Linked DNA regions of Homo sapiens: all the other regions are linked to region 1. Evidence: fine-mapped expression QTL. A gene starts in region 1. Each other region holds a variant in brackets. All regions are shown on one strand. Distances are from middle to middle.

The links.
Region 2: its variant is fine-mapped to the expression of NAIP in whole blood (INTERVAL, PIP above 0.99).
Region 3: its variant is fine-mapped to the expression of NAIP in whole blood (TOPMed, PIP above 0.99). The same link has a PIP of 0.9 or more in lung and monocytes.
Region 4: its variant is fine-mapped to the expression of NAIP in whole blood (TOPMed, PIP above 0.99).
Region 5: its variant is fine-mapped to the expression of NAIP in whole blood (TOPMed, PIP above 0.99).
Region 6: its variant is fine-mapped to the expression of NAIP in whole blood (GTEx, PIP above 0.99). The same link has a PIP of 0.9 or more in aorta, lung, spleen, subcutaneous fat, tibial nerve and visceral fat.
Region 7: its variant is fine-mapped to the expression of NAIP in whole blood (TOPMed, PIP above 0.99).

Annotation. Positions count from the first base shown.
Region 1 is chr5:71,023,243-71,027,311 of GRCh38, forward strand. NAIP (NLR family apoptosis inhibitory protein) reads right to left here and starts at 2,097. Exons shown (of 17, transcript NM_004536.3): 1 at 1,373-2,097; 2 at 1,076-1,164. RefSeq lists promoters at 1-2,456, 1,861-2,225 and cis regulatory regions at 1,647-1,860, 2,226-3,690.
Region 2 is chr5:71,320,826-71,324,894 of GRCh38, forward strand. It overlaps LINC02197 (long intergenic non-protein coding RNA 2197), which reads right to left. Exons shown (of 3, transcript NR_134269.1): 3 at 206-590. Among named protein-coding and RNA genes, the nearest start is that of LINC02197, 120 kb to the right of the region's middle. The variant G/A (reference allele first, on the strand shown) is at 1,969.
Region 3 is chr5:71,545,601-71,549,669 of GRCh38, forward strand. BDP1 (BDP1 general transcription factor IIIB subunit) reads left to right here. Exons shown (of 39, transcript NM_018429.3): 33 at 3,082-3,145; 34 at 3,820-4,006. Among named protein-coding and RNA genes, the nearest start is that of MCCC2, 40 kb to the right of the region's middle. The variant C/G (reference allele first, on the strand shown) is at 2,448.
Region 4 is chr5:71,361,718-71,365,786 of GRCh38, forward strand. The region is part of intron 2 of LINC02197 (long intergenic non-protein coding RNA 2197); the gene reads right to left. Among named protein-coding and RNA genes, the nearest start is that of LINC02197, 83 kb to the right of the region's middle. The variant G/A (reference allele first, on the strand shown) is at 2,149.
Region 5 is chr5:71,372,273-71,376,341 of GRCh38, forward strand. All of the region lies in intron 2 of LINC02197 (long intergenic non-protein coding RNA 2197), which reads right to left. LOC105379025 (a long non-coding RNA gene) reads right to left here. Exons shown (of 2, transcript XR_001742723.2): 1 at 3,170-4,069; 2 at 1,764-2,106. It also overlaps the pseudogene PMCHL2. Among named protein-coding and RNA genes, the nearest start is that of LINC02197, 72 kb to the right of the region's middle. The variant C/G (reference allele first, on the strand shown) is at 2,145.
Region 6 is chr5:70,442,683-70,446,751 of GRCh38, forward strand. It overlaps the pseudogene GTF2H2B. Among named protein-coding and RNA genes, the nearest start is that of SMN2, 400 kb to the left of the region's middle. The variant G/A (reference allele first, on the strand shown) is at 1,702.
Region 7 is chr5:71,614,656-71,618,724 of GRCh38, forward strand. All of the region lies in intron 6 of MCCC2 (methylcrotonyl-CoA carboxylase subunit 2), which reads left to right. Among named protein-coding and RNA genes, the nearest start is that of MCCC2, 29 kb to the left of the region's middle. The variant G/A (reference allele first, on the strand shown) is at 2,373.

The DNA.
Region 1 (4,069 bases):
GGTTAGGGGCTCAGCCCCCAAGACTGCCCCCTACTTCAGATGCCAGCCACAACTATTAGGACCTCAGGGTACCCACACTTCTGTCTGAGTTCACTACAAATCATGGGTATCTGCAACCCCCTCAGGTTCGATAATTTCTTTCTTGGGGGTTGGGGGAGTTTAGGAGCAGAGGTTTAATAGGCAAAAGAAAGAAAAACGAGAACAGATCTCTCCCTTGTGAGGGGCTTCCGAAAGGAAAATCCGGCCTGCGGTGGACTGCACCAGATTTTATAGGTAGGCCTGAGGAGGCGGCGTCTGATTTGCGCAGAGCCCACAGGTTGGTTTGAACAGGTGTGACGTTTACATAGCACGCGGGGAAGGTTGGGCGCCCCACCCTAATCTTACTATGACAAAGGGCAGAGTGACCTTGACATGCCATGTGCTTTCCAGAGCAAGGGCAGAGAGTGACGCTCACTGTGGTGGGAGAGGAGACCCTCTGTTCCTAGAAAATCACAACAGCATGCCCCTGTGCTATATCCCTGGTTACTACAGCAGTCTTTGTTCTTGCCTAACAAGATTACTTCCCTGAACTGTAAAACTCCCTCAGTACTGCATACAGAGAGAGGTTAGGAGACATGGTGGTCGTGGATAGGAAATGAGGGAATTATGATAGGAAAGTTGGAGGTCCTGTTGCCGACACCCCTTAGGGTGGCCGGAGGCTGGGGTCAGTCCAGAAGCCTTCGGATGGCACCAGGAGGTAGCCCCAGCCAGAAATCCTCAGTTGCTCCAGGACCTCTTCCAGCCCCACACGACAGCTTGGTCCTCCGTGAAAGGAAACTGGTTCAAACATGGCCAATATGCCCAGCAGCCCGTGGGTATTGGGGGGTTCTCCATGTTCTCCCCAGCAAGCCTGTCCCCCAAAACTTGTAAGGCTGGCAGCCACGCTCATAATTTTTAAATGGCTAATTGGTGAAGGCAGAGTTTTCTCATTCACAGAAGCAGAAGGGGGCCCAGTATTTGGTTTGGTTTGATTCTAAAATGGAGGCCAAGAGCCTCGAAATCAAAGGACAGAGTTGAGGTCCGCCCCTTTACTCACCTTTGCAATGAATGCACCTTGGAATCCCAGACGAAGTCCCCAATATGAAGTGGCATTGTTGTCTGGGGTCAATACCCGGGGTTCGTCGTCTCGCACCAACAAGGTTAAGGACACGATACACACGAAGAGTGGGTTTAGGAGCGGAGGTTTAACACGCAAAAGAAAAAGGAGAACAGCTCTCTCCCTTGTGAGAGAGAGCGGCTTCCGAAAGGAAAATCCCAGGTTCGATCGTTTCTTATAATGGCTCACAGAACTCAGAAACTTTACTTATGTTTACTGCTTTATTATAAAGGATACAGATGAACAGGCAGTCGAAGAGGTACACAGGGCAACGTCCAGAAGGGTCCCAGGTGAGCACAGGACCTTTTGTCTTCATGCAGTTTGAGGTGCATCGCCTTCTTGGTATGTGGTTGGGGTTAACCAAACCGAAAGCTCTCCAAACCTGTGGTTTATTTTTTAATGGAGGTGCCATCACTTAGGCATGATTGGTTAAATCACTGGCAACTGGTGGTTAATCAATCTCCAGCCCTTTTACCCTCTCTGGAGGTCGAGGCGTGGGGCTGCAAATCCCAGACCTCTAATCATGCCTTAGTCTTTCAGGGGATAGCCCCCATCCTGAAGTTGTCTAAAGGATCCCAGCCACCAGTTAGCTCACTGTCATACACTCTTATCACTTGGAGATTCCAAAGGTCTTAGAAGCTCTTGTGTCAGGAACCAAGACCAAGTATTCTAATAAAAGATGTTTCTATCACCCCTGTCACTCAGGAAATTACAAGGGTTTCTGGAGATCTGTGCCAGGAACTGGATGAAGATCAAATATATATATTTATTATATCACAATATTGCAGCCTACTACTTGCCAGGCACAATTCTAAGCACTTTACATGTGTCCACTTAATTCCTTTAACAGTCCAAAATCAGCTATTGCTATATCATCTCCATATTACAGATAAGGAAACTCAAGCACATAGGGGTTAAGGTTAACCAGTGATCTGGCTAGTCTGTACTTTTACCTGATGTTGTGCTGCCATACAGACTAGATATATTTTTTTTTTTTTTAGACTGAGTCTTGCTCTGTTGCCAGGCTGGAGTGCAATGGCGTGATCTCAGCTCACTGCAAACCCAGCCTCCTGGGTTCAAGTGATTCTCCTTCCTCAGCCTCCCCAGCAGCTGGGACTACAGGCACATGCCACCTCGCCCAGCTAATTTTTGTATTTTCAGTAGAGACAGGGTTTCACCATGTTGACCAGGATGGTCTCGATCTCTTGACCTCGTGATCCGCCCACTTCGGCCTCACCAAATGCTGGGATTACAGGCGTGAACCACAGCACCCAGCCAAGACTAGATTTTTAAGAAAAGGCAATCCAGATATCCTAGAAGGTTCATTTCCTCTTTTTGGTGGTTTAGCAAATTTCTTAGTAAGGCTTCTAGCTGTTATAGCAGCATTAGTATGTGAACCACAGTTAAGCTCTAGTCCAACAAGGCCATTTCTTCAGCAGAGAAGCAATTGTTAAATAATCGACCAAGTATTCATTGGCTCCCTCTTTTTGTATCAACATACACAATTGTTACAGTGCCAGTGTTTATTGGAACCACTTTCCATGGTGCATCCAGCTGTGCCTAGACCAGCAGGTCTTTTTCCAGAAGTCCAGATGGCAGGGGAACCTCTTCACGTTGTTGACCCTTCTCCCTGTAATTTTTTCCCCAATAAACCTTTTCATTATGTTGCTGTATTTATACCCAAATACACATTACATTTATTTTAGTACCTTGTACATTTTGTTGCCCTTATAAATTGGAGGGGTTTTAAAAACTATTTTTTATTCTCAATATTCATTGATGATGTATAGGACTCCTTCTGGACTGTTTAATATATGACTGTAAATCCCCCTGAATTTTCTTAGATGTTTGTAGTATCTGATTATGACAGTTTTGTCTTTTATTTATTGCCTTGTTGCATTGATTAGGTCCTCTAATATAATGTTGCTTAATAATGAAGATAGATATCCTATCTTATTCTTGACTTTTGGTATAAATTCTTCTAAAGTTTGAGCATTAAACATGATGTTTGATGTAGATTCTTAGTGGATACTCTTTAGCAGTTAAAGTAACTTCTCTTTTACTTCCAGTGACACTACTACCTAATTTGAAGAGAGGATTTGGAATTTTGAGTTTCAAAATAATACTGTTTTCAAACACTTTTTTAGCTAAAAAGTACACACACATAGGGCAGTGTTTTAAAGTTTAGCTACTTCAGGGCATATGTGTATACTCACTGAAGTTTTAATTTAATGGCTTATTGGTCATTCATGTATCTTCTTTGGTAAGGTAATTAAATATTTTTCTTTTTTTTTAAAAGACAGAGTCTCGCTCTGCCGCCCAGGCTGGAGTGCAGTGGCACAATCTCAGCTCACTGCAACCTCCGCCTCCTGGGTTCAAGCGATTCCCCTGCCTCAGCCTCCCGAGTAGCTGGGATTACAGGCGCCCACCACCACGCCCAGCTAATTTTTGTATTTTTAGTAGAGACAGGGTTTCACCATGTTAGCCAGGCTGGTCTCGAACCCCTGACCTCGTGATCCACCCACCTCGGCCTCCCAAAGTGCTGAGATTACAGGTGTGAGCCACTGCACCTGGCCGTAATTAAATTCTTGACCCATTTAAAAATTGCGTGTTTTCCTTTTTATTACTAAATTATAAGGATTCTTTATATATTTTGCATACTAGTCCTTTGTTAGATATTTACATTGCACATATATTCTCTCAGTCTGTTAACCATCTTTTCATTTTCTTAATGGTGTCTTTCAAAAAGAAGTTTTTAATTTTGATGAAGTCCAATTTTAATTTTTGTTATGATTGATAGTTTTTGTGTCCTAAGAAATCACTATCTACTCTAAAGTTGTGAAGATATTCTAAAAGTTAACATTTGTATTGTACAATATCAACTGTTAGTTGAGGATATGGAGCAACTGGAAGCTCATACATTAGTTGTGGGAA
Region 2 (4,069 bases), 300 kb after region 1:
CCTCACTAGCATCCCAGGCTAGTGGGCCTTATCCTACAAGGTTCAGTGGTGGTGAGGTCTGCAGTCTATCACTGCTCAGCCCCATGGACTTGGCCCCTTTTCTGGGGAGCGTGCAAGAAAACTTGGCCTTCCCAATTGCTGGAGCTGCAGCCCCTGGTTTTGGGGTACCCAGGGAACAAATGCTACTGGGACTCCACACCTACCTAAGAAGCAGCTCTACCCAGACTCCACATGGCTCTCTGTTTTGGTCTGGAGACCCCAGCTGGGGTATCTCCTGAGCCCAGGGATTCAAAGGTTCGTGGCAGAAATATGCATCCCACGGGACTCTCACTCACTCACCATTTTCTTGTAGGGGGATTCCCCTGGGTCTGTGCCACTCCTGGGTGAATGGTTGATCTGTCTCACTCTTCTCCGTGATCCGAAGGTCACACTATGTCACTGATGAATCCTTATGTGTCCACCTGGATGTTCCGGTTGAAGAGCTAGTGTCTCACCACTCTTCCTGCTATTTGTGAGAGTGGCACACACTAGCTGCTTCTAGTCAACCATCTTGGCCCCACCTCACTCACTTTTCTCAAGTAATCAAAGACCTAGTAAAAGAGAGCATAAAGCATAAGAAATTACCTTGATAAACAAAAAATCTTGGTTTATTAGGCCAGTTATCTAAAAGGTAGAGAAAACATTTCACTATTGTCTATTAAGAGCAGGTCAATACTCAAAGAAAAGCTTGTTGTTTCAGCACAGGGGACAAATTTCAAGTTTTCCATTCCTGTACTTTTGATAATAATGCTCAAGTTTTCAGAATATTTATAAATAATTTCCTTTTAACTTTAGCCAACTTGGTCACACATAAAATTCTTTTCACAAGATTAATCTTCCACAAACTTTCTATAAATTTGTCATCCAGTTATCTTATTCAGTTTTTGTCTATATTTTTTCTCTTTTTCTTTTTGGAACAGTAAGACATTCTACTTTTAGACAAAAAATACTCTCTTTTTCCCTTAACAAAAACACAACCTCTTACTTATAACTTTCTGTATGTGTTTTCCTTCCCTCACGTACAGATTTGTTTCCCTTCATTATTTCTAGTTTAAATTACTCTAATATTAATTTTAATTAACTCTTAGTAACCTTAATTTCTAGTGAAAATTAGTAAGCATTTTGAAGTGCATCATGTTAGTATTTTGCAGATGAACACCATCTCATAAAATAATTTTTATGCCTTTAATTAACAGGCCCAAATATGTTTAGCTTTTCCATAACATGTGAAACCAAGATGCCAAATTACGTATATTTTAAACTTCTGTTAAGCAATTGATATTTCAGTATTTTCCTTAGAAATGACTCAAATATTAAATCAGTAAAGTGTTACTTAATTTAATATAACATGATTTTAAGATTTCAAGTCACACTAAATTATTTTTGAAATTCTGACAACTTTATTATCAACCTTTTGTCAATTTATATTCACCTAATTCACTTGTTCTTAACAATTGTGCTTCAGTTCCTCCTTAAACACAAGGATGAGTGGATTTATAGCTTTAAGACATTCATTATACATCTCAGTAATAGCAAGCTTGTTTCACCAGTAACTTTAGGTTTAAAAACTGTATCTGTACATTGTAATTAATGCTGACAATTCTGAAAATATTTGTTTTTATTTTGCCAACAAATTTTAAAACTAGCTTTGTCTGCCAAAGATTATTTCGTCACATAAGCCAAAAGGCAATTGAGTTTCTGTTTTTCTGAGAGAATTCTTAGTTTAAACACTTATGTTTTCTCTGTAAGCCAATTAAGTAGAGCCGTTTATGAATTTTGGTAGAAAAAATTGTACATACGCACACACACACACACACGTAGAAAAATACAGACAGAGGAAGAACTTACAACTTGCATTAAGAATTGTTATTTGCCTGGCTTGCAAGTAGTTTTACTCCCTCTTTCAGACTATCTGTCTTTTAATGATCT[G/A]TTCAATTGGCCCATAAACAAGTGTTAGTTAGGCCACCCAAAATTTGTACTTCCAAAGAGATGATTTTTAGGTGAAGGAATGTAGAAAATTTAAATCTCAAAGGTACAGAACTTAAACACCACTATTTGTTGAGATGAAAAAAAGCATATATAGGAAGCCTTCAAAATGAAATGGTCAAGGGTGAGTTTACACAGATAGATAGATTTAGGTCTCTTCCTTTTGCTTTGTGAAAGCATCTAGTGTTTTAGGTGTCAGAGAGGGAGATATCCTTACAAAGCAGAGATTATCATTACAGGTTTACATTTCTTACAAAGAGTTTCAAAATAAACAGGTAAATGCCAAAAACGTATATTTTGGAGACGGATTAATTCACTAGTTGGTCTATTCAACTTAACTTGTTTCCTAATGAGATTAAATTCATGCACAAATAACCAAACCAAAAATTAAACCAAAAGAATACTCACCAGAAAGGATGTCCTTTACAAGAGCAGATCCCCCAAAATGTAAGAGTTCACTGAAAAGGTGGGAGCTCAAACCAAGAGAGGACTTATCTCGCAGCATAAAGACAACTTGTACAAGTGAAGATCACAATAGGCTCAGGTGAGTATCATACACAATTTCAAGTATCGCCAGATACTTGAAAGCCTTCCAAAGGCTTTCTTTGTTACTGTTTGGATAACAGTGCTGTAACTGTAAGTAACAAAGAAGGCTTGGAGCCTTTGCATCTTGCTTCTGACATTAGATTATGTCAACTTAAACAACAGAGATACTGACTCTCTAAAATAAAGAGTGTATTCAGGAAATAGCAGTAAATTGCAATTTGAAATACACATGCTATGGTGGACCTTAGGCACCAAAGAAGCTGAGGGACTGTATTAGTTTGTTCTAGCACAAAGAACTACCTGAGACTTGGTAATTTATAAAGAAAAGAGGTTTAATTGACTCATGATTTCATAGGCTGTACAGGAAACATGATTGGAGGAGGCCTCAGGAAACTTACAATGATGGCAGAAGGCAAAAAGGAAGGAGGCACGTCTTACATGGCCGAAGCAGGGGGAAGAGGGCAAAGGGGAAATACCACACACTTTTCAACAAGCAGGTCTCATGAGAACTCACTATCACAAGAACAGCAAGGAGGAAATCCACCCCCATGATCCAATCGCCTCTCACCAAGCCCCTCCTCCAACATTGGGGATTACAATTCGACATGAGATTTGGGTGGGGACACAAATCTAAACCATATCAGGAAGGCAAAAATCTTAAAAGAGAAATTTTATGTAAGTTTTGTAATAAACCTCATGGGCCAGAGAAGCTTGTTACAAGAGTTGGCAAATACTCATTGATAATATTGGCTGTTGCTGGAGAGATGTCTTCATAGAATTATCATATCTAACATTTTCGTGGTTTTTGAGAGAACCATTGCAGCAGTTCTTATTATAGACATATGTACATGAAGGCCCCTCTTTCATGGCCTCCCAGCTTCATTTTTTTATGGTTTGATGTAAGTGACTCCATTTTGGTGCTCACAACTTCCACATTTCTCCCTTTTGGTTGAAATATTTTTCTGAAAGCATTTCACACTTAAAAGATATAGATTGGCCGGGCATGCTGGTTCATACCCGTAATCCCAGCACGTTAGGAGGCGGAGGTGGGTGGATCACCTGAGGTTGGGAGTTCGAGACCAGCCTGACAAACATGGAGAAACCCCATTTCTACCAAAAATACAAAATTAGCTGGGCGTGGTGGCACGTGCCTGTAATCCCAGCTACTCAGGAGGCTGAGGCAGGAGAATCACTTGAATCCAAGAGGCAGAGGTTGCAGTGAGCTGAGATCACGCCATTGCACTCCAGCTTGGGCAACAAGAACGAAACTCCATCTCAAAAAACAAAAACAAAAACAAACCAACAAAAAATGAAATAATTGTAAAAACCAACTATAGTTCTCAGTAATGATAGTTTCATTACCGTCAGCTATTAGTAGAGTTAATTAACTCCTATCAACCTCACATTTTCCATTTAAAAAATGCAGGAGAAAAAGTTTGATGTGGGTTTAATGAGAAAATTTATATAAAATAGATCTAACTACTATATTTATCACAAA
Region 3 (4,069 bases), 520 kb after region 1:
GATTACAGGCATGAGCCACTGTGCCTGGCTAACTTCACCCTTTTTAGTGTACAGTTCTTCAGGTTTTTATAACTATGCAGTCATGTAACCAATACATGAACAGTTCCATAAAAAGTTCCCCAAGTGAGAGAAGCCTTGGACTTGAAGAACATGTATACATTATCCAGTTAAAGGGAGAGGAACGTGTGTGTAAAGAACAGGTGTGGACCGGTTGCAGTGGCTCACACTTTTAATGCCATTAAAAAAAAAAAAAGCCAGGCATGGTGGCATTTGCCTGTAGTCCCAGCTACTCAGGAGGCTGAAGTGGGAGGATCGTTTCAGCCTGGGAGGTAGAGGCTGCAGTGAGCTGTGGTCGCCATGCACTCCAGCCTGGGAGACAGAGTGAGACCCTGTTTCCAAGAACAAACCAGTATGAAACAGCATGTAAGCAGTATGAGTGGAATATTAATGAAGAAAGTGATTAGAGATGAACTTAGAAAGATAGCCTGCAGACAGATCATAAAAGGATTTTTATGACTTGCTAAGGAGTTTGGTTACATTTAAAGTTACGAGATTCCTTACCCCACCCTGACTTTTTAATTTTTACTTTTTATTTTGAAAAATTTTAAACTTAGAAGTTACAAAAATCTTACAAAGAATTATCCCATACACTTCACTTTGATTCATTAATTGTCAATATTTTGCCTCATTTGTTTTTTTACTCTGTCTTGCTCTCCATCTGTATAGATAAATACTTGGCTGGGTGGGGTAGCTCACGCCTGTAATCCCAGTACTTTGGGAGGCCGAGGTGGGCAGATCACCTGAGGTCAGGAGTTCAAGAACAGCCTGGCAAACAAGGTGAAACCCCATCACTACAAAAATACAAAAATTAGCCAGTCGTGGTGGCATGCACCTGTAATCCCAGCTACTTGGGAGGCTGAGGTGTGAGAATTGCTTGAACCCAGGAGACAGAGGTTGCAGTGGCCAAAGATCGTGCCATTGTACTCCAGCCTGGGCGACAGAACAAGACTCTGTCTCAAAAAAAAAAAAAAAAAAAAAAAAAAAACCAAAAAACTGAATCATTTGAAAGTAGGTTGAGTCCATAAATACCTCATCTTGTATCTAATAAGGACAAGGAAGTTCTCTTACAGAGAAAGGACAGTACTGTTGTCACACTCAGTATTACTACACTATTTAACATTGTCTCAACAATATGTAATATACAGTTTCATTCCAGTTTCCCTAGTTGTCCCAATCATGTCCATTATAGCTTTTTTTCTTTTTGAGACAGAGTCTTACTCTGTCACCCAGGCTGGAGTGCAGTGGCACGATCTCAGCTCACTGCAACCTCTGCCTCCCAGGCTCAAGTGATTCTTGTGCCTCAGCCTCCCAAGTAGCTGGGATTAAAGGTGTGTCCCACCACACCTGACTAATTTTTTCGTATAATATTTTTAGTAGAGATGGGGTTTCACTATGTTGGCCAGGCTGGTCTTGAGCTCCTGGCCTCAAATGATCTGCCCACCTCAGCCTCCCAAAGTGCTGGGATTACAGGTGTGAGCCACCACGCCTGGCCAGCTTTTTTTTTATTTTTCTTAAATTCAAGATCCAATCAGGGCTCTCACATTGCATTTGATTATCCTTTCTCCTTATTTTCCTTTAATCTAGAGTATTTTTCTTGTCTTTTTGTTCACAAAAGAGAAAAAGCAAGAGAAGTTTAGACCAGTCTAGGCTGGCCTACAGTCTGGATTTCTTTTTTTTAATTGCTTCCTCATTACTAGATTCAACTTACATATTTTAGGGCAAGATTACTATATAGGTAATAATGTGTTCTTCCTTTTATATCACATCGGGAGACACATAATGTCAGTTTGTCCCATTATTGGTGATGCTGACTGATCACTTGGCTAGAATGGTACCTACCAGATTTCTTCATTATAATGGCATCTTTTCCATTCTGTATTAGTAACTTGTCAAATGAGACCAACGCAGCAAGCTGTTACCCTGTAGTTTTAATATCCACTGATGATTCCTGCCTTAATCAGTTACTGACATTGTTGGTTACAAAATGAAAGTTTTAAGATTTTAAGCAGGCCAGGCGCAGTGGCTCACACCTGTATTCCAGCTCTTTGGGAGGCTGAGGCGGGTGGATCATGAGGTCAAGAAATTGAGATCATCCTGGCCAACATGGTGAAACTCTGTCTCTACTAAAAATACAAAAATTAGCTGGGCATGGTGGTGTGTGCCTGTAGTCCCAGCTACTCAGGAGACTGAGGCAGGAGAATTGCTCGGACCCAGGAGGCAGAGGGGCGGAGGTTGCAGTGAGCCGAGATTGTGCCACTGCACTCCAGCCTGGCGACAGAGCGAGACTGTCTCAAAAAAATAAATAAATAAATAAAATAATAAAAGATTTTAAGCAGTAGAAGCCCGGCATAGTGTCTTACACCTATAATCCCAGCACTTTGGGAGGC[C/G]TAGGTGGGTGGATCACTTGAGCCCAGGAGTTTGAGACCAGCCTGGGCAACATGGCAAAACCCCATCTCTACCCTTGAAAAATACAAAAAAATTAGCCAGGTGTGGTGGCGTGCATCTGTACTCCCAGCTACTCAGGAGGTTGAGGTGGGAGGATCGCTTGAGCCCAGGAGGCGGAGGTTGTGGTGAGCTGAGAGATTTTAAGCAGTAGAGAATTACAGTCAGGATTGCATTTTAGAAAAACCATGTTTGTGGTTTTTTGGAAAACAGGAGGGAACCATACTGCATGCAGGGAAAGCAGTTTGCCTTCATTCAGATGTCACCTACTAATAGTACAATGGCTGGTGTGATGGGAGTAGAGAAAAAGTTGTGGGGTTTGGGTCTCCCTATCCTGTCACTTCAAAAATCATTTCATAAAATGCACATATTTAACAATGTAGTCAGGATTCTTTGTATTAATATTTATTTAAATGAATCAAAAGTTTATTGGAACAGCCTAAAGCTTCAAACACTTGAAAACTGTATATGGTTAGATGTTGTTGAGTTAATCTCTTCACTATATCATATTGACAGGAATAACTTTTTAAATGTAAGATTTGGCCAACCTGACTCTTTCATTTTAATTTTTTATGGCAGTATACACCAACAAGTATTCCAGAAGTCCAACAAGAGAATATAATCAATCCTCAAGACCTAACAGGTATGATAATATGCTTCAGTGACATGTCATAGAACTTAGTTGTATGATTTTTACCCCTTATTTAACTATGGAAAAACATAAAACAGTTGTATTTTAGTCTATGCTGGCCTTAAATTTAAAACGTTTTATAGAAACACCTTGAAGTATTTTGTGTATCAGTTTTGTTTTTCAGAGTCATAAATCTTCTCCCTAGTATATCACCTTTATCCTTTATGAAATTACTTCTTGGGCCAGTCATGGTGGCTCACTTTGGGAGGCGGAGGTGGGTAGATCACTTGAGGCCAGGAGTTCGAGACCAGCCTGGCCAACATGGTGAAACACCATCTCTACTAAAAATACAAAACTAGCCAGGCACGGTGGCATGCACCTGTAATCCCATCTACTTGGGAGACTGAGGCACAAGAATCGCTTGAACCCAGGAGGCGGAGGTTGCAGTGAGCCGAGATTGTGCCACTGTATTTCAGCCCGGGCGACAGAGCGAGACTCTGTCTCCCCCCCGCAAAAAAGGAGGGAACTTACTTCCTCAGGCTGGGGGGTTGTTGGGGGGAGCATTTATTTATTTAGTCTTGATGATAAGTTGTCCTGAGACTGTCTTTTTAGAAATGAAATAAATTAATGATACTCTGTTATTTCATAGTTGAGCTTTTTTATTACTAACTTTTAAACTTTGATAGTGAATCTAGTTGCTAATGTACCTCAAGATGGAGAAGATGAACAAGCCTTTATTTTAACTCTGGTGGAAATCCCAGCCAATGCAGTAGAAGAATTTACTGATGCCACTGCACAGTTCATGCCAAACCCTTTACTGCCAGCTCCCATATTGGTCAAATCAGTGAATACCGAAGAAAGGGGTGACATGAGGTAACGAATGAGTGAAACTGTTTTTGCTAGGAGGAAAAGTGATTTATGAACTAAGTAGCATTG
Region 4 (4,069 bases), 340 kb after region 1:
TCTATTCTTAGACTGGCAAATTTACATAGTAAAGAGAACTTTTATCATTGTCATCCAAAGAAAATATAATCCTAAGAGAAAAAGTCCAGCTAGTTTTTTTTTTCTTTTTTGTTACCTGCTCATAGGATATAAACTTATTTCTATCACACACAGGTATCATTTTCTTCTATTTCACACAAATGTGTGAAATAAAACACATAGAAGAAGAAATAAAACACTTCTTCTATTTCACACAAATGACAAAAAATGTCCTTCAATTATTTTGACACACGATCTCTCAAGATACATATCCTTTTATATCAACTATAAATACAAATTTAAAATTTTGATAAAAGAGAAATAACTGGAATAAAACAAAGCAGTATTTTTTAAAACTATAGCTGTTCCCCTAAGATATTCTCACACTAAAGAATTTTTCCCAATTCTTCTCCCCCACTGAGAAGTACAGTCTTCAAAAATTAGTCCAGGTATTAGTGTTTACCAAGGAGGAATATTTTGAACAAGAATAATCTGATGCTACTTTTCATTTGTCAAGTACATTTTCTAAATTATATTCTAATAAGAGAGAATATGCACATTTGCATGTCATGATTCTTATAAATATTTACTGAGTACTGTCTCTCTGTAAAGAACTACAGTGGGATGGATTTAAGATATATAATACATAATTTTTCATCTTCAAATTGTTCACGTTTTGTAGAGATAGTAACTTGTGCATAAATGACTAGAATGTTAAGTTGCTAAGTGACAAGTGACAAAAATGTTTAACCTGTAAAATCTTCCCCTTGGGAAATTGAGGAATAAAAACTTCCAACTAAAGGAACAAAGATTGTCATGAGCAAAGTTGTATAAAAAATAAATTAAATGTAGGATAATAAAGGTAGTGTATTAAAGTGAGAAGGGTTAGGGTTTCTTAGGTGACAGACTGGCTTGATTTTGTGACTTGTGTGATGGAAGCAAGTTATGTAACACCTCTGAGTTTCCATATCTTCATCTGTGAAGTAGACATAGCTGAACCAACCACATGGAATTGTTGCGAGGGTGAAATGCAATGGTGTGTGCAAGTTTCTAGGCAGTGTTGGACTGGATCTACTATTACGCTATACAAATGATACTTAGAATTTTTACAGTTATGCTTAATATTGTCATAATTCCAGGAAATGAGAAAAATCTCAGCAGAGGTACAAAACGGGCAAGCTCTGGGCAAAATGATCTTAGTGGGTTTATTTCAAAGGATGCTTGAAAGTAATCTGTGGAAAACAAAATTGACAAAAAGTGCATGTTGAAATGGAAATTAACGGGTCTTTGAATGTTAAGACAAAGATAGCGGGCATGCTCTTTCATCTGTCTATCCCTGGCCCTTAGCATGCCTGGTGCTTTTCAGTGCTCCAGCTTTACGTGTTTAATCGTTTTTGTTTCATTCGAAATAAGTGTTCTCATAGATATAGAAAACCAGCAGGCAATAAAATATATATTCTGAGCTGTGATTTAGTGGTATTATTACTTAGCAACAGTGTGTAGGATGAATTACAGAAAGCAAAAGTAGGGCATAATTATAATCACTAAGACTAATTATCAATATAAACTTTTGCCAGAACAATTGTAAATATATGGAGAGGTGATGCACATGAAAAACACATTAAAATACCCTAGGATTTTGCCAAAATAAGCTGTGTAATAAAACAAAGGGAGAAGAAATTGAAGAATATGATGAAGTTTAAATTGAGGTTCAAGGTGTTTTGCATGAAGAAAGATGAGAAATTTAAATTTGAGATATGATGAGTTTATGGTAGGAAATTGAGATACCATATTTTGCCAGTTGGACTAGACCTCACAAAAAGACTCAAAATAAGTATGCAGAACGCATTAGTTTAGATATATTTGAAGAGACCATGGGAAAAAAGGAAAAAGGGAGGAGTTTAAAGAGTCAAACAAAAAGATGATGGAAAGGCAGTGGGAGACATAAAAGGGAACCAGAAATCTTAAGAGGAGAAAGTGTTCTGAAGAAACACACAAAGTCAATTACTTAAAAAGTTGAGAATCACTGGCAGTGCTGGATGATCGTGACTTTTTTCTCTATTTCAGTAAGCGGGCGATGGACATTAGAATGCAAGAGATGGATGAGGTATGGAAGTAGAAGGAATAAAT[G/A]TCAACTATTATTTTAAAACATTTGCACAGAAGAAGCAAAGTAGGATAAGAGCTTAAAAATAAAGGTTCTGTTTATTTTCATTTTGTAGTCGTAGGGAAAATGTGAGCATGTTAAAAGAAAAGCTGAGTGTAAAAAGGGAATGAGAGGACAAATTGAAATAGACATGGGTTCAAATCCCAGATCCCACTGGACATCTCTGAGGCTTACTAGACATCATCTGTAAATATAAGATAAACACCTAATATAAAATGTGTTCAGCTATAAGAAGTTTGAGTTAGTGTATATGATTTTTAGAAAATCAATTTATCATATACAATAAAACATATATTAAATTAGACAGTTTGATGCATATTGACAATTGTATATCCCCTGCACATTTCCATCATATATGAAAACTTCTCACATGCCCTCACCATCTCAATCCCTGATCACAGGCAACCACTGATGGAGGTTCTGTCATTATGTACAGGATATATCTTTTCTAAATTTTGTATAAGTGACATCATACATGTGCATTATTTTGTTTCTGTCTTCTTTATCTCAGCATCTTGTTTTTTGAAATTTGTTCTTATTGAGTACATCAGTGGTCAGCTCCTTATTATTGCTTAGTGTATTTCATTTTAGGAATAATGTTCATTGAATTTATCCATTTTATCCATTATAATTTTGAGGGAAATTTGGGGTTTTTCCAGGTTGGGGCTAATATTAAAGCTGCTATGAACATTCAGGTACGACTCTATGTATAGATATGTCTAACTGTCAGCTTCTACATAAACATTTTAAAAATCACTATCTCTAAGAAAACTAGGAAATCAAACATCTGGAATTCGGCATTGGCTACCAATTGTAGATGAAACATACTTTTTCAATGATTTAGACACAACTGTCACAGCTTACAAAATGCATCTTCACCAATTAGTTACCTAGTTAGGCTCTGCAGACTTAATTGTTTATCTCTGACCATAGTCCTAACCCAACTTGGCTCCATAGTTGCTGGGATAAGATAGATTGATTTTAGCTATTGGTATCAGTATTCTACTTCCCACATGCCTGTCGAAAAATGCTCTTAGAGTTTTAGAACTGGAATGGCAAAATTTATTTCCTGAGTGATTAAATGGCTCCACTCCTACTATTCTAGGTCACCTTGTTCCTTGTTGAGAGATAGCCACATCCTGAATGTGGCTCTTTTCTCTCAGCTTTGCACCCACTGTCAATAGGCAAATCTCAGTTGCAAGAAACTCTTTAGGTAGAATGGAAGTATTATTCTTTCTGCTACATGAACCTGAAGGAAGTATTCTCAGATTATCCAGACCTAAGGAAGGATACATTCATCTATAGCTCCCTCTCAATTTACAGAAATGTTTGGTTGGTAGAGAGTCTTGCCTAAGTATTTAATCTGGCCCAAGGTAAAGAAATACTGCAACCTCAGATCTACTAGCCAAGGGGAGCTGGGTTGTTTTGAAAGGCACTGTAATGTGCCCCCTTTTTCTTACACAGCAGTGGGCACGATTAGGAGGCAAAAACTTATGGAAAGGAAAACTTAAGTTCTTCCTTATAAAAATTTAAAACATGTATCTCCATGGAGGGCCTGCAAAGTCTTTATAGGATATTTTGCCTTTGGGAACTTCTTTTTTTATACTACTATTTCAATCTCCTCACCTCCCTCTCTGTCTCTATTTCTAATTAGATAGATCATAGATACAGGTATAGATAAACATAGATATATAGATGGAAGGCCTTGATTGAAAGTGCTACAACCTCCTTCCACTGTTGAGTGGAAGCACCTGCTTGAGGGATGTACCAGTTTAGTTAGGAGGAGGAAATGAGGAGGGGAGTCTGATGGAGGAAAAAAATAAAATGTTCTGAAGTGATTGAGAGCACAGAGAGTTTGGAATAGACCTGCAAACAGGGGGCCCTTGC
Region 5 (4,069 bases), 350 kb after region 1:
ATATGTGTACATATATACGTAGATATATATATATATGTTGGACTCATGAATGTACATGAAGATACTAGCTTTGAATGAAACAATGTCAATTGCAAACTGCTGTTCATGCTTAATATAAATTCAATTATGAACCGAAATCCTTTAAGACAAAACAGGGAACCAGGTACTCTTATAACTTTTCTCCCAATAATTTGATTTTTTGGAAAAATTTAGTACCATATAATTTTCCCCCAAATATTACCTTTATTAAAAATAATAGTAATAATTCTGGAGAGTTATTTACACTGTGATTTATTAAATCAATCCCTATGATTTAATGTAGTGATGAAAGTGGTCTTTATATTTAAAATGTGCATGTTATATTGCCAGTTTTTACTGAGCACATACATTGTCGGCTAATACATACTCCTTTGTAGGTGAGTGTTTAGCGAAGAAAGCCATTGCTCCATTGGCAAATTAGCGTCATTAGTTGAAGGAGCCCAAGGGTTTAAATTGCAGGAGGTTTGCAGGAAGCATGTGCGCTGGCAGAGCTGTGTGGTAAGGCATCTGCAATAACCGTCTACATTATGCTTCCATTTAGGTGGTGTCATCACTCTGTCACTTTCATCTATTCCATAATTTGCACAAAAAGAAAGCACACCACAACAACTCTTTAAATTCCAAAAATGTATGGTAAACTGTCAGTTTCTCTTGTATGAAGTTGTTTATCTCAGGATTTTACTTGGCGTGCAATTTCTCAATAGACGTATCCTTCCTTCTGAAATGCAAAGGAAATCCCATTGATCAATAGGGGTTGCAGTACTTATCAACATCACAACGGAGACAGCTTAATTCCTCAGATTAGCATTTGGCTCAGATCAGCAAATGTTTTCTGAGAAATTACTATTTATACATTTAAAAGTATCCAACTTCCCTATCTTCCTCCTATCAGCTCAAAATATAAGCCCGGGCCATGTGGCTGCATCTTAATCACGTTCGAGCTGGAGAGCCATCAGTTGAAAGCCTGTCTCAGTTCATAGATACGAGAGATTGTAATATTTTAACATTTCCTCCTGCCAAGTTGCTAAGCAATAAAACTATCTTGGCACTTTCCTGCCAGTTCATCATGAAGAACTACTTTAGTTTAGCTTAGTCTCTTGATGAAACAAATGGAAGGCAGCTGCACCAAACGGCCTTTCAGAAACGTGTTGCCAAACAAATCCCGGGAACTTTCACCCCTTTGCATAGCTAATTTAGATGGCTTGAAGCAGAGAAATCCCATGTTAGTATCAGCATAGAAAATCAAGTCTTAAATATGAGTGATTAAAAATTATACAAACAATAGCTCATCATAAATTTGCCGAGTGCTATTGTCCCATATTACCTTTCTCCAAGGTATACCTAAGTGTGATGATTTCTCAGCTAAAAAAAGGCACATTTTTCATACCATAAAGTCAACTTAAGTCAGACATACTAGACAAGCTACTGGCTAAATTTGAAATGTATTTCTACTTAATTTTTACTTAGCTTTTGAGAGTTTTGATTACATAAGTAATGCCAAAAGAATGCCACACAATAATTTCAAACAACAGAGAAATGTATACATTTAAAAGTGTATAAAGTAAAAAGAGAAGTAAGTTTCCTTTCGCATTCATCCAATCCTGTATATTTGTATGTGTTTTTTCACAACTGCCTCTGTGCATGTGTGTATGTGTATTTGTGGCTGCATATGTATAAACTAAGAATTTTAGTCTATAAACTTACAGCAAATATTGACACATTTATTTATTGCTGTTATTGTTTTTATTAAAATTGAATCATATCCTGAGCCCCCAACTTGCCATTACATGAACTAAGTTCTTCCCATCTCAGGAATCAGAAAATCCCAAGAATCTTTATCACAACAGAATGTTCTGGGAGAGTCCCCTTGGATTTAGGACACACAGGTCACCAAGGAAATGGCCCTGTGCAAACTCACACCATCATGTGAAGTGGACATCTGCATTCTAGTGCTACACAGACTACACCATCTGCTTCAGAGAGTTTGCAGGTGATCTTCTCTCAGTCTGTCCTCCTCACATTTCAGGTCCTTCACAGAGCCAACTCCTGTTCACTGTTATCCTCAGCCTGAAATCACAAAGCTTCCTTATGTAGGCCTTCTTTAT[C/G]AACTCAGATTAAATTAAAACCTTTCCTCCCAGTGGACAACAAGGCACTTTTTAATGTATCCATTATCATACTTCTCAAATTTATTTTTGCCAACTCTCTGCTTCCTTACTAAACTATGGTATCCATAAGCGTAGCTTACAGTGCTCAACATTTATTCATTAATTGGACAGATACTCACTGAGCTTCTACTATGGTGAATTGATGTGCTGGATGCTGAGAATAAAACTTCTATTTGAATGGCATGATTCTCTCTCACTGTCCCTACCTTTGAGACAGATGTGAATAAAAAAGCCACACATTATTACTTAATTAGAATGATAAGTGTTATACTATCTATGTGAGTAGTTGGAGCAAGTTAGTCTAGTGAGAGAGGTGAGTGTTTCAGGAAATTCTCTGGAAAAATTTGTATGTAAGTTGAGACCTGAGAAGTAAACACAACTTCATTAGGAGAGAAGAGCATCCTTAGTTCTTTAGTGAGACTGGAAGGTGTGTGGAGTAGAAGCCTTAGAGAGGAGGAGGTGGTGGAAACACATTCTGAAAGAAGAAGTATTCTAAAGCCAGGCTGGCCAGCAAGGATTTTATATTACCGAATCTTTTGGGTTTTTTTCCATGAGAATACTGTGAAGCCATAAGCAAGGCAGCAATATGAGTAGATCTGCAATTAGAACATGATGGTGGACTTGGCCAAGATGGTGAAAACAAACAGAATAGAATTGAAAAATATTTTGGAGTTAAAAATAGGAGAATTTATCGATTCACTGATTGTGGGTCTGAGGCAAAGAAGATAAAAGTTAAAAAATATAAGAGGAAAAGCAATAGTTAACACTCATAATGCACTTGCTAGGTACTAATCATTAAGTTTCTCACATGTATTAGTAGATTTAATTTGCACAATAACCATAAGAAGTAGGTGCTATTATTACTCAAACATCATCGATGAGGAAAGTAAATCAAAGGGTTAATAAATAACTTGCCCAAAGTTGTACGGCCATAGGGTGGTTTGGTTCCAGAATCTATTACTTACACATTACTCCTGGGCTTTTGGAATGAGAAACTGAGGATGGTGTTGCTATAAACTGGAACAGGGAACATTGGAGAAGCAGTGAATCTGGGTTAAGGCACAAGATGATCTTTGAACAGGTTGAATTTAAGGTGCCTCTGAGATAGGCAGCTAGAGATGACAGGTCTGGCATTCTAAAGTTGAATATAAACAGAAGATATCATTTTGGGACTTATCAAAGTAGAAATGATAATGAAAGCCATGAGATGCATGAAAGCATTCAGGATTACAGTATAGAGTAAAAAAAGAAAGCCTATATGAAGTAGAGGAAGGGGTATTGGCCTCATTGTCTAGGGAGGAACTGCTAGGGTAGTAGAACAATGGGATTATGCTGTCACAAAAAACAAAGAAAAAACATAATTTCTTAAATCATGGTCTGTCACTGAATCTGGTTATAAAACCTTATCTTGCACTAGAAGGATCTGTAGCTTTTCCAGCTGAGAATGGGGTTCAGGATACCGAATCAACACTAGAAAAGAGAGAAACTGGGGATGAAGAAAACTCAGCTAAATTTCCTATAGGAAGGAGAGATTTTGACAGTGAGTAGTTTTTCAAAATTCAGTTCTTACATCCTACCATTAAACATAACTCTGAGTTTAAGCAAATTTGGATGCAATCATAACAAAATCAAATACGACCATGGCTCAATTACACCTGCCAAAAATGTGGGATTAAGAAGTGTTTAATTAGTTCTTATCATTTTGGTTTACTCAGAATTAGTTATACTAGATCCATTATTCTTTTTTCTTAATAAATTTTGTGTGATAATTATAGTCCTTTAAACAATTTAAACTTTCTTCTTCCTTCAGCACTCAGATGTATGCTGGGAAGAGTCTACCAACGTTGCTGGCAAGTCTGATTCTT
Region 6 (4,069 bases), 580 kb before region 1:
CTCAGGAGGCTGAGGCAGGAGAATCCCTTGAACCTGGGAGGTGGAGGTTGCAGTGAGCCAAGATCACACCATTGCACTCCAGCTGGGCGACAAGAGCGAAACTCCATCAAAAAAAAAAAGAACATCCAGGATTTAGGAGTCACATTAAACACTTACTGGCTAGCCGAAAACAATTATGTATCCATCTTGCTTTTCACACTTAAATCATTTAGAAGTCATTCAGTATCACCATATCTAGATCAATGTTGTTTTTGAAATTGTTGCATATTTCAGGTATAATTATGGTTTATATAATCAATTGCTTCCTGTTGGATATTTAAGATTTTTTTTTTTTGCTATTAACAAATAATGCTTATATCTATATTTTTGAACATTTGTACAAGTATAAATGCATGGTAAATTCCTAGAGGTAAAATTACTGAGTCAAGAGTTTTACATGTTTTGTGAATTTTGATAGATATTGTAAAGTTGTTCTTCAAAGAACTTTCATTTATTGTTTTCGCACATTTAGCCAACATTAGGTATTATGAAACTTTTTTATATTGGCCAAAACTCACAGGCAAAAGAAAAAGAAAAAAGTCTCATTGTTTTAGCTTGGTATTTATTTGCTTATGGTTGAGGTTAAATATAGTAAAAATGAAAAACCCAGTACTATAGAAGATAGAGTTGAAGAAATATTCCAGAAAGTACAATAAAAGGAGTAAAATAAAGAGGTTCAAATAGGAGAGTAAAGATAAGAATACTGGTGGAATTATCCAGAAGGTCCAATGAGAATGATACGAGAAAAAAAGAAAAAAAGTAGGATAGAAAATCATCAAAGACATAGTTCAAAGAAATTTTATATTGAAGGACAGAACTTTCTAGATTGAAAGGGCCTGTTGGCTGGGAAGGGTGGCTCATAGCTCTAATCCTTGCACTTTGGGAGGCTGAGACTGGGGGATCACTTGAGGCCAGGAGTTCCAGGCCAGCCTGGGTCACACAGCAAGACCTCATCTCTGCAACGAAGATAAAAGAAAGGGACTGCCAAGTGCCTAACGTATTGAAGGAAGGCAGACCCCATAATTGTGAAATTTCAGAATACACAATAAACCATTAACCCTAAACATTTCCAGAGAGGAAAAACTAGGTCACACACAAAGGATCTGGAATTAAAATTGTTTGGCTTCTCATTAGCAACACCGGATGCAGAGAGGGAGCAGTCACCTTCAAAGTTTGTGGTGAAAATTGTTACCAACTTAGATACCCAGCCAAACTGTCAGTTAAGTGTAGGTAGAATAAAGACATTTTCAGACTTGTAAGGTCTCAAAAAGAGATTTTTCTGGGGAAGGTCTGGAAGAGGTAGGTGATTCAAAGGAACTGAGAAGGAGAATGACATGGGATCTAGTAATATGTATCTAATTCAAAACAGGCTGAAGAACGGCCTAGGATGATGGTAAGGAGAAATTCCAGAATGATACCTGTGTGTCACATATGGGGAACCGTCCAGTTTGGAGACAGTCAGGATGCTCCAGGAGAGAGATCACCAAGGGGATGAAAACTGCAGAACTCCTGATGTATTTGAACATATCGAGAGGACAGTTAGACTATTCCGGAGAAGATTGGGCCTGAATTAGTGTCAATTATATAGGAAACTAACCTTGGGAATAGCAACACAGTATTTCCAGGAAAAAAAAAAATGTTTTAAATAGGGGAAAACTTATG[G/A]CTTAGCTGAGAATATTTTTATAGGCATAGTAAACTAAACATTGATTATTGTTCTATCCAAAAGGAAGACTTCACTATGTAGAAAGAATTGAGAATGACACTAGTTAAATATTTATGCATTACTGGGTTCAAGATGATTGAAAGATAATTAAATTCTCTTCTTTCATAGTTGGAGATTTATAGCCAATAACTGTGAAGAATCACAAAGTAGCACTTATTAGAATAAGTGACTATCAAACAAACGTTAGAAAGTGCTTCTGGCTGGGCATGGTGGCTCATGCCTGTAATCCTAACACTTTGGGAAGCCAAGATAGGAGGATTGCTTGAGCCCAGGCATTCGAGACCAGCCTGGGCAATATAGCGAGACCCTGCCTCAATAAAAAATTAGCCAGGCATGGAGATACATGCCTGTAGTCCCAGCTACTCAGGAGGCTGAGGCAGGAGGATCACTTGAGCCCAGGAGGTTGAGGCTGCAGTGAGCTGTGATAGCACCTCAGCACTCCAGCCTTTGAGACAAAGCAAGACCCTGACTCGAAAACAAAGAAAAATAAAGCATGCTCACAGTTAACCTTAATGAAAATAAAAACTAAATTTTGGGCTGTCAGATGACCTTGTATATACTGTGGAATTTTTTTTTAAATTATTGCTATTCTTTTTTTTTTTTTTTTTTTGTGAGTCAGAGTTTTGCTCCCGTTGCTCAGTGTGGAGTGCAATGACACCATCTCGGCTCACTGCAACCTCCGTGTCCTGGGTTCAAGCGATTCTCCTGCGTCAGCCTCCTGAGTAGCTGGGATTATAGGCGCCTGCCATCACGCCCAGCTAATTTTTGTATTTTTAGTAGAGACGGGGTTTCGCCATGTTGGCCAGGCTGGTCACGAACTCCTGACCTGAGGTGATCCACCTGCCTCGGCCTCCCAAAGTGCTGGGATTATAGGCGTGAGCCACTGTGCCTGGCCTATTGGTATTCTTAACTCTTTTTCCTGAAAGTCATGTGTAAAGACAAGTACATATTAATTAAAGGATTCTAGTTAGTGAGATTTTGTTGAACTATTTTAATGAGTAAATTCTAAGAAAAAACATTGTTAAACTTTTTTTTCAGATTTTGTTATGGATGTCAGGGGGAATTGAAAGACCAACATGTAAGTTCTTTGGCTTTCTAAATATTAAGTAATGTACAAGAAATATTGAAATCAATGGTACTATAAGTTTTCAACAGGTTGTTAAAGACCAGGCTCATATCAGTTTATTTCTTGTAAAGATAATGACAATAGGTGAAGGTAAAATAGGAACAAAATAGTTTAAATAGTAGTTTTGTTATTCTGCATTCTAATTTTTGCTATAAAGTATTTTGTAATTCATCTTTTTAAAACTTTTTATTAAAAATTTTTTAATTTTTTTCCTCTTTTTTTAAATTCTTTGATTGTTTTGTCTACTTTGGTACACCCTTGTAAAACATGTAATTTGTCTTTAGCTTTCAAGCTAAACTGCATTTAGTCTGAAAGTATTTAAAATATTTTCTTCATATTATACTTTAAGCTGTGTGATAACACATTGAAATTGTTTAAGGTGGCCACAGATAATAGGTGATTCTTCCATTATGCCAATGAGAAAATACTTTTTTAAATTTTGAAGAGGGCCAACTTTAATAAATAAATTTGTATAGATGTAAATAATATGGATCACTGTCTAGCTTTAATTTTTAATTTAGTTACATGTTCATATTTAAAACTATATATATTATATAAAATAATAATTAGAAGTATTGCTCTTCCACTGTCACAATTTATAAAGTAATTTTATTAAATTTTATATACCTCTTTGACATCAGTAGTTTACTCTTAACTGGAACCACTTTTTGAATCATTTGACAGTTTTTTGGTTTTATTTTCTGAGACAGACTCTTGCTCTGTCACCCAGGTTGTAGTGCAGTGATGCAATCTTGGCTCACTGCAACCTCTGCCTCCCAAGTTCAAGTGATTCTCATGCCTAGCCTCCCAAGCAGCTGGGATTATAGGCGTGCACCACCATGCCCAGCCAATTTTTGTATTTTTAGTAGAGACTGGGTTTCACCATGTTGACCAGCTGGTCTTGAACTCCTGGGCTCAAGCAATCCACCCGCCTTGGCCTCCCAAAGTGCTGGGATTACAGGCGTGAGTCACTACACCCGGCCTCATTTGAGTTTTTAAGAATAGGTCATTGTCTGTGTTGTTTGAAATTTATTTATTCATTCTTTCTTTTTTTTTTTATTCAAAGCCAAATACTTCTGAGATTTAGTGATTTTTGAATCTGTGTATGAAGCTGCCCTGGAAATTCTATCCCAAGGAGCAAGTACTCATATATGTAATGCTGAAAGAACAAATGTAGTTTT
Region 7 (4,069 bases), 590 kb after region 1:
GTATTTTTAGTAGAGACGGGGTTTTACTATGTTGCCCAGGCTGGTCTCGAACTCCTGAGGTCAAGTGATCTGCCCGCATTGGTCTCCCAAAGTGCTGGGATTACAGGTATGAGCCACTGTGCCCAGCCCAGACCCCATCTTTTAAAAATGAAAAAATTTTTTATCTGCTTATTTTTCTTCTCACACCCCAAAATCACGTTGATACCTTTTCTTTAAAGGAAACAAAAAAAGAACACTAAAATGATGCCAAAAGATAAAGACCTTTTCTAGCTTCTGCTGTTTTTGAAGCTTTTCTCCCTACCTGGGTGGCTACATTTTTTTCCCCCTTTGAGATGGAGTCTCACTGTGTCATCCAGGTTGGAGTGCAGTGGCACGATCTCGGCTCACTGCAACCTCCACCTCCTGGGTTCAAGCAATTCTCCTGCCTCAGCCTCCCTAGTAGCAGGGACTACAGGCATGCACCACCATGCCTGACTAACTTTTTTGTATTTTTAATAGAGATGAGGTTTCCATATGTTGGCCAGGCTGGCCTTGAACTCCTGACCTAAGGTGACCCACCCACCTCGACCTCCCAGAGTGCTAGGATTATAGGCGTGAGCCACCGCGCCCAGCCAACATTCTTAAGGATTGGCACATTGTCTTCATTCTAACTGCTCACTCCTTCAAACCTCCATGCCCTACGAGAGTTTCACCAGCCTAGAGACCAGATTCCCACTCTGCACAGCCTCTTGGTATCATCATTTTTTTCCTTTTCGTGAAATTCTCCTTATGCTTCATGCCACTGGGGTGCCCTTATTTATTTATTTATTTTAACGATTTAGCCAGATCTCATTACCTGTCATCTCCCTGATCTTTATCTAGTCTTGACCACCTCTACATCTCTACTTTTGAACCTCGGGGGTTCTGCTTTCTCAGTCAATTTCCTGCTGGTACCTTAGTATGAAATAATAAGAAATATACACATTGATCTCTGTCCCCAGTTCCAGGAACAGAGCTCCTAAAATCCTCATAAGTTTCTGAGCAGTAGGGGCACTAGGAGGCTCTTTTGTTCCAATATTTGGTGTCTGCCCCAGTTCCTCCGACAGAGTTCCTAATACCCTTGTAGATAGGGGTACTAGAAGAATCTTTTGTTCTATGATTTGGTCTTTGACCCCCATTCTTGTCACAGAGCTCCAAAATCCCTTGGAATTTCCTGGGTGATAGGAGCATCTTTTATTCTGATGAGGCGACTCTTAGTGGGCTCCTGGATGGTGCTGGTCACCAGAAAGACCAAGCCATGACCATAAACTTGGAGCTTTCAGTCCCAGCCCTATCCTTCAGGGAGGGAGAGGGGCTGGGGATTGAGTTAATAATTGACCATGCCTCTGTGATGAAGCCTCCATAAAAATCCCTAAATGGTGTTCAGAGAGCATCTGTGCTGGCAAACTCATCCAAGTGCTAGGAAGGTGGTGCATTCCCACTCCGCGGGGACAGAAGCTCCAGCCCTCAGGACCTTTGCAGACTCGCCTTATGTATCTTTTCATCTGGCTGTTCATCTGTATCCTTTATGATATCCTTCCTAACCAGTAAATGTAAGTAAAGTGTTTCCCTGAGTTCTGTGGGCCACTCTTGTAAATTAGTCAAACCCAAGGATGGGTAGTGGCAGCCCTGATTTACAGTCAATCAGAAATATAGGTGACAACCTGCTCCTTGTGGATTGGCATCTGAAGTGAGGGCCATCTTGTAGGACTGAGCCCTTAGTCTGTGGGATCTGATGCTGTCTCTAGGTAGACTGTAAGAACTGAATTGGATTAGAGGACAGCTGGTGTCTGCTGGAGAACTGCTTGGTGTGTGGAGAAATACCCCCACATATCTGGTGTCAGAGGTATTGAGTGACTGTGTCAGACAGTAGGAAAAACACTTTTTCCTCTGTCTTTTCAGACTTAGGTTCAAACTAGACATTGAACACATTAACTTCCCCTACTCATTTGTTCCCTCACCTGAGTTCCCATCTACTGCTAGCACTACCTTGCTCTTTCCCTAGGACTTGATGTCATCCTTGGCTCTTTTCTCTGCATTTTCCCTTACTTAATCCTTTTAGGTCAAAAATATACATCTTTGACATTTTTGTATCCCTGGCAGTTGCTCTGATGCCGGGCACAAAGTGAACACATCCTAAGCCTTTGCCTAATATATTGATGAGTCCTGTTGGTTTCACCCTTGGGCAGTTCCTCTCCACTCTGTTCCTACTATCACCCCCAGAGGCAGCTCAGGCCTTTGTTACCACTAGACTGTGGCTCTAGCCTCACCTGCCTGGTGTCCCTGTCTGCCTAGTCTATCCTTTCCCATACAGTGGACACATGCTGCAAGGTTATTCTTTATGTGGCCCTCCT[G/A]TTACTATTTGCTACAAAACAAAGCTCATACTTCTTAGCCCGATACTTAAGCCCCCGTGTGATCGGATTTCAACCTAACTTTCTAGCCTTATTGCTCCTGGACCCTAAACTGCAGTCAACCTGATGCAGTCACTGGTCTCCATATATACCATAGCCTTTTTTGACCATCTGCTCAGGCCCATGCTGGTCCTCTTTCCCCTCATCCTCCTGGGTCGGAGTCTCCAACCCATCTTCCAAGACACATCTCAAATGCCACCCTTTTAAGGAAATCCCGGAATCCTTTACTGGAAGTAATATTTTCTTCCTCCTAGCTCCCATAGTTCTTGTACTGTGCCTTACTAATAGCATTTATCCCTTTAATCTAGATATATCTGGACTAATTTCCTCTACTAGTCTGTTAGCTACTTGAGAATAGGGACAATTTAGATGAATTTTTATATCCTCACACATTTCCCTGAGATGGTACTTACTTAATATTTATTAAAAGATAAATCTCCTTATAACTATTAAAGTTGTAATATGATAGATATTGAGTGGTTCTGTTTCCTAAGTTTAATGTTTGTTTTGTTGTTTATTTAAGACTTTGGTTTAGACAGACTGATAAAACAATTCCTTATGTTTATTATATAAGTTAATCACTTCTAACTTCAATTATGTTATGTATTTATTTCGATAGTAAGCACCAGCTTCCTTACTCAAATTTAGTTGTTTTTCTCTCCAAGGTTGGTTTTTATTTAATGTTACTAGCCTTGCCCATTGTAAATTCATTTACCTAGTTATTTCAAAGAGTATGTCTATTGGCAATCATACCCGTATCGTTTTCTGTATCTTTGCTGCTATAAAAATGTGGACAGATTACTATAGACCTTCCAGGTTTCAACATTTTCTTTTGCTCTCAAGGAGAAAAGATAGTTAAACTAGGTACTTACTTTTATGTTCTCTTCTGTTTCATCTTTCCTTCATGGCAGATTTTAAGACCCCTTAATCGTTTCTGGAGTTTAAAGAGTTGATGTGTGGGTGTCTGGTGGTCTTTCTTTGAGTCTCATGTCATGAGAATGCCTTCTCTGGGCCTTCTCCATATCTGAGGCCTGATGACATGATGATCTTTGCAATGTTCTTCTTTTATTTTCCCAGTGGTGCAGTTTAAATGTGTCCCCCAAAAGTTTATGTGTTGGAAATGTGATTGCCATTGTGGTGATGTTAAATGGTGGCACCTTTGGGAGGTAATTAGGTCATGAGAGCTCTGCCCTCATGGATGGATTAATGCTATCATTGTGGGAGTTTGGCCTTCGTTTGCTCTCTGTCTCACACACACTTGCCCTCTCTTGCCCTCCCACCTTCTGCTGTTCCACCATGGGATGACTGTCAGATGCCAGTGCCATGCTCTTGGATTTCCCAGCTTCCAGAACCGTGAAAAGTAAATTTCTTTTTTAAATTCTTTCTTTCTTTCCTTCTTTCCTTCTTCCTTCCTTCCTTCCTTCCTTCCTTCCTTCCTTCCTTCCTTCCTTCCTTCCTTCCTTCCTTTCTTTCTTTCTCTTTCTTTTTGTAGAGGTGAAGTCTTGCTGCTCAGGCTGGTCTTGAACTCCTGGCTTAAGTTATCCTCCCACCTCAGCTTCCCAAAGCATTGGGATTATAAGCATGAGCCACTATGCCAGGCCAAATTTCTTTTCTTTATAAATTACTCAGTCTTGGGTATT